2 separate regions of the Homo sapiens genome follow, and region 2 is linked to region 1. The links come from fine-mapping of genetic effects on gene expression. A gene starts in region 1. The other region holds a variant in brackets. All regions are shown on one strand. Distances are between the middles of the regions. Region 1 holds the start of ABCC3 (ATP binding cassette subfamily C member 3). Region 2 overlaps ABCC3 (ATP binding cassette subfamily C member 3).

What was found.
Region 2: its variant is fine-mapped to the expression of ABCC3 in whole blood (TOPMed, PIP above 0.99). The same link has a PIP of 0.9 or more in blood mononuclear cells and monocytes.

What each region holds. Positions count from the first base shown.
Region 1 is chr17:50,633,768-50,636,670 of GRCh38, forward strand. ABCC3 (ATP binding cassette subfamily C member 3) reads left to right here and starts at 1,114. Exons shown (of 31, transcript NM_003786.4): 1 at 1,114-1,214. The coding sequence starts at 1,170. RefSeq lists a silencer at 1,084-1,133.
Region 2 is chr17:50,678,038-50,680,940 of GRCh38, forward strand. It overlaps ABCC3 (ATP binding cassette subfamily C member 3), which reads left to right. Exons shown (of 31, transcript NM_003786.4): 25 at 56-182; 26 at 1,761-1,862. Among named protein-coding and RNA genes, the nearest start is that of ANKRD40, 28 kb to the right of the region's middle. The variant C/T (reference allele first, on the strand shown) is at 1,539.

The DNA.
Region 1 (2,903 bases):
TTTGCCAGGGAGAATTCCTTCTGAGCCCCAACAAGCGGTGCTGAGTTGGCGTCTGGGATTGTGTTAAGGAAGACAGGGCAACAGCGGGATTGAGAGATGGAGGGATCCCCGCATCTGAGGGGATACCGGGAGAAGGAGAGCTGAGGCAAGCAGGAGAAGGAGAGCACTGACAAGCCCATTTTACAGATCAGGAATGTAGAGTTTCAGCCTTAGGAGGAGGACGAGGACGAGGACACTCACGTGGGGCTCCTCCTGGGGCTTCACCTGTCCTTCCCCCCCCAACCCTGATCAGGCTGAAGCAGAGGGAATTCACACATGTTGGGTGCCCACTAAGTGTGCCAGGAAATACGCTTTGCCTACCCTTTCCATTCAATCCTCAGAGAACCCTGGGAGGAAGATTCTCTTCTATGATTGTCTCTATTTTACGGATGTGAAAGTAGAGGCCCAGAGACGTGCCGAGGTGATGTGGCAAGGTCAGGGAGCCACAGAGCCTAAGAGGGCAGCAGTTTAAGAGGACATAAGAGGCCCCCGCTGGACGATGCTGCGGCCCCCACCCCCGCCTCACGGGTACACACCCGCGGAGCACACCCCGTGTGCTCCCCGTGTGGCGCCTGCCAGTGGTCTCTGGAACCTGATGGGGAAGAGGTCAGCTTCCTGATTGAGCACAGAAGCCCTTCCCATTTTACAGATGAGGAAACTGACCTCCGGAGAGGAACGTGACCTTCTCAAAGATTCCTTTTTTACTAGGAAAGATTGTTAAATCCCTCTCCCTACGTCCCCTACTCAATGACTCATCGGCCCCACGGACTTGTTCGGGAGTGGGAGCGCCTGTGTATCCCAGTTCCCCCTTGGAAATAGACTCGACTCCTGGACTGTTAGCCTCGGTATTTAGAGAGACATCCCCCTGGCTTGGCCCAGGGGCCGCTCGCAGGGGCTGTCGCCGTGCCAAGGGCCCCCCCACCTCTGCCCCAAAGTCCCTCCCAGGGAGGCGCTGTCGCAACCCGCGGGACGGGGGCAGGGAGACCGGACCCAGAGGCACTGGGGTAGGGCTCGGCAGGGCGGGTCCGGGCGGAGCGCGGGGTGCGGAGGGCGGAGGCGGCTCCGGCGCCCGCTCTGCCCGCCGCTGGGTCCGACCGCGCTCGCCTTCCTTGCAGCCGCGCCTCGGCCCCATGGACGCCCTGTGCGGTTCCGGGGAGCTCGGCTCCAAGTTCTGGGTAAGGCGCGGGGCTCCGGGGTCACTGCGCGGGGGCCAGGGTCGGCCGGCTTCGCCCGGTCCCCGCCGCCTGCCTTCCCGCGGGGCCGGCAGGTATCCCGGGACGGAGCCCCTGAGACGGCCTGGGCGCCCGGGAGGGGGCGATGGGCTCGGGAGGGAGGTTGGCTGCGCCGCCCGGAGCCGGGTCCCACGCGGTGTCGGGGACCTGCCCTGCTCTGCCCTTCCCGGCTGCAGCACTGGGGAGCCCGGGAAAGTGAGGAAGAGTGCGCGGCTGGGGCGCAAAGGCACAGTGCGTGGCTGGGTGAGTCGGCTCCATCCCAGCCCCTCCGTCGGGTGCGGAAGGGGCGTTTCGCAATCAGCCGCGGGTTCCTGATGGAGGGTCTTCCCTCAGCATCTGCCTCAGGTTAGGACTCGGTTGCCCACCTGGGCATGGATTGCCCCCAGGGCATCCAGAGCACCTGCTCAACCAGGTGTTTTGGGAGGCCGGCTGTGCAGTGTCCCACCCTTCTTAGGAAGGTTTCCTGCCACCTTCTTTTCTCTAGGTAAGACTGAGGTCTGAGAGCAGGCCATCCCCACCACTCCGGACTCAGAAGGGAGAAGCAGACCCCAGTCTGGAGACAGGTGCAGGGTGTCAGGATTCCTGTAGTCCAACTCCCTTCTCACAGATGGAGAAAGGGAGGCCCAGAGAGAGGAAGGGACTTGCCCAAAGTTACCCAGTTCAATGAAGGCAGAGCTGGGATAGAAAAACAGGCTACAGGCCAGGTGCAGTGGTTCACGCCTGTAATCCCACCCTTTGGGAGGCAGAGGTGGGAGGATCACTTCAGCCCAGGAGTTTTAGATTACTGTGAGCTATGATCGCACCACTGCACTGTGGCCTGGGCGAAAGAGTGAGACCCTGTCTCTAAAAAAATAAATAAATAAGAAAAGAAAATCAAGCCTTTGGTGACTCTCACTCCAAATCTCTTTCTAAGACAGGCTGCTCTTCAGCCTGCTGACTCCAGCCTCCAGCACAGTTCAGGTGAGCTAAGTGCATACAGCCTAGGAGCTTTCTTACCAACTTGCAAAACTTACTTGCCTCTATGAGGCAAGTGATCATGTGGTCTCCGTTTTACAGAGGGAGCTCAGATTAAAGGTGCTTCTCTGTGGTCATTAAAGGGGTGTCCAGGGCTTGTGAATCCCAATCTCTAAGTCTTTTCCTATTTTGAGTATTTGTACATATATGCCCTTTGTGTGTGTACGCACACACGCAGGCACGTGGGGTGTTACCCAAGAGTTCGTGCTGTGCACGTGTGTGCACAGGTGTATAAGTCTGGAGCTATGCTCTTGGGCTGTGTTTAGAATGGGCTGAAGGCGTTATATGGATTTTTTGAAACTTGGGGCAATGGAGGTAAAAAAAAAAACTGTAAAAAGGCATATTTGGGATTCTCTCTTTTTCTGTGGGTGACCCAAAGGTTAATCCGAGATGGTGCAACTTCTCTGCCACTGCCCTTCTTTCCCAGTCCCACAGGAACTTCATGTATTATTCAGCATGGACAGGCCACTTGCCACCAGGGTCCAGAGGTTGTGCCTTTGCCTCATGAGCACACTTCCTTTCACTGCCCTTTGGGCCAGGCTGGTATGACCGTGGCAGGTTTGTGGTGCCTGGGATGCCAAACAGAAAATCAAGAGGGTAGTTGTGCCCAAGCTTCAG
Region 2 (2,903 bases), 44 kb after region 1:
AAAACTGGCCCTGCCCTGCCCCTGCCCCATTTCCTCCTCATCTGATCCCCCATAGGTGGCTGAGCATCGGAGTGGAGTTCGTGGGGAACTGCGTGGTGCTCTTTGCTGCACTATTTGCCGTCATCGGGAGGAGCAGCCTGAACCCGGGGCTGGTGGGCCTTTCTGTGTCCTACTCCTTGCAGGTATGAAGGGCCTGGACCCCAGGGCAGGGCCACCACTGGGACAGAAACCACACAGGTGTTCCAGGCATCTCCCGAGTGCCCCTCCCTGCTCAGTATGGGCACCAGCCACAGGGTCTGTTCTCAAGGACTGTGAGAAAAAAAAAAAAAGAAAAAAATCATTGAGTTGACAAGTTTATAACCACACACCATGGCTGGATGTTCCTACTTTCCTTCCCCAAGAAGCCCATGTTCTCACATTCAGAAAGAATTCTGTTGAATAATCTCTGTCCTCAAACCCCACATCTCTCTCCTGCTCAGCCGTCGACCTTGCCTGACACCTCACAGTTCAACTGGAGAGACCCCCATCAGCAGGAGATTGTGCTGCAGGCTGAGCAGGTCTTTGTGGCTGGAGAAACAAAATGTTTTAAAAGCCCAGAAGAGGGACTGGGTGCAGTGGCTCACACCTAATCCCAGCACTTTGGGAGGCGGAGGTGGGCGGATCACCTGAGGCCAGGAGCTCCAGAACAGCCTGGCCAACATGGTGAAACCCTATCTCTACTTAAATACAAAAATTAGCCAGCCGTGGTGGCGGGCATCTGTAATCCCAGCTACTCAGGAGGCTGAGGCAGGAGAATAGCTTGAACCTGGGAGGCAGAGGTTGCAGTGAGCCAAGATCACGCCACTGCACTCCAGCCTGGGTGACAGAGCGAGACTCCATCTCAAGAGAGAAAAAAAAAAAGTCCAGAGGAGTTTTCTTGCTTTGGGGTGTTGTAGAAATGATCTTGGAGCTTAGCCCCAAAGGACAAACAGAATTTCTCTTGTCTCTGGGCAAGTTGTAGGCTCATGTGACAGGTCAGGACAGTGTAGGGCTGGCATACCGCTCGCTCACGTTCACATGCTTGCAGAGAACGTACACAGACGAGGTGACTGAAGCCTGGTCTGCAGGTCAGGCAGGTCATCCTGATGCCAGCTTGTACTGTCAAAGAGTCACCTAACTGCAAACGGAATTTTTGTAAAGCAGATCACATTGTTAATACCTCAGGTGGCTCAAACCTTGAACGCGTTGGCAAACAAAAAACAATCCAGAAAGGTCAATTTTCACAAAGGTCAGTGTGCACATGAATCTACTTGTTAAAATGTACATTTTGATTCAGTAGACCTAGGATGGGGCTCAGGACTCTGCACTTTGATCAAGACTCCTTGGTACGCAAAGTGTGGCCCATGGGCCAGTTGCATCACCATCCTCTGGGAGCTTGTTAGAAATGAAGAATCTCAGGTTCCAAGTCCCACCTCAGACTACAGAATCCGGCGTTGCATTTTAACAAGATTCTCTGGGAAGTCTTATACATATTAAAGTTGGAGAAACAGAAACCAAGG[C/T]GAGGTGGTCCTTGGTTAAGTCTGCACTGTCACTGCCCAAGGGAGTCATTCGTGATTACAGCCCCAGCTGGCATGCCTGTGGGCTTGATCCAGGCCCACCTGGGTCATCCATGGGCTAGGATCCCATGGATGGGCACATGATCCAGGAGTCTGAACTCCTCCCAAAGCCATTACGGTGGGGAGGGGAGATCGCCATACGTATAACCCAGTCCCTTTGGCCAGGTGACATTTGCTCTGAACTGGATGATACGAATGATGTCAGATTTGGAATCTAACATCGTGGCTGTGGAGAGGGTCAAGGAGTACTCCAAGACAGAGACAGAGGTGGGTACTGGCATGAGCCCGGGACAGGGGGAATCTGAAGTAGCTGGGGAAGAAAGCTTGGTGGCTCTCTCTCCCTCAACATCAGGGCCTGCCACGTATGGGGCTCTTCATTCATTTACCCATTCACTCCTTACTGAGCATCAACCAATGCTCTATGCTAGGAGGTGTAGAGAGATCAGAGTTGAGCAAGACGGTGTTTGCCCTTAGGTGATTCTGATTTGGTGGGAGGGGTAAGACCTATTGCAGGGCTTTGCAGTGGATGACCAGATCTCTGGCGTGGTGCACCTGGAGAGGGCAGATGAGGGAGATCCTTCAGCTGGGGTGACCAGGGGAGACGAGCTTAGATGAGAAGGATGGACAGGCTTTGATAGACTAAGTAAGATGGTGGGGTGGGCAGTGGGAAGGTGAGCATTCCAGCCAAAGAGACCAGCCTGGGCAAAGGAGTGGAGGTGGGGCAGCATGCCCTTTGTTGGGGAAAAGGAGTTGTTCCCTACTGGGGGTTCCAGACTTTTCTCCACCGCCCCCTCTCATGGTCACACCTTAGCCCTCTTCATGCCCAGAAGCTGCAGCATCAGTGTCAAGCATCCCATCTTTGGCCCACGCTCCTATCCTGCTCGCTCTCATGCTCCAAGTCCCCCACTGTCACAGCAGTCTGCCTTCACTGGGACTCCCAATCCCATGACCCCCCTTTGTGTCTCTGTCCATCAGCTTCTCTGCCTTCACCTCCCTCCCCGGCCAGCCTAGAGTCTATGCTCCACCAACACAAACGCTCTCACCTGCCTTGCCCTTCTCTTTCTTCTCTCTCAGTTGTACTCACCTCCAAAACCCACCCCAGCTGAGCCCACCAATCTGCCTTCTTCATGCCTGCACTGAGCACTTAAAACCTTGCAGGAGGCGGGGCACAGTGACTCATGCCTGTAATCCCAGCACTTTGGGAGGCCAAGGTGGGTGGATCTCTTGAGGTCGGGAGTTCAAAACCAGCCTGGCCAACATGGTGAAACCCCATCTCTACTAAAAATACAAAAAAATAGCTGGGCGTGG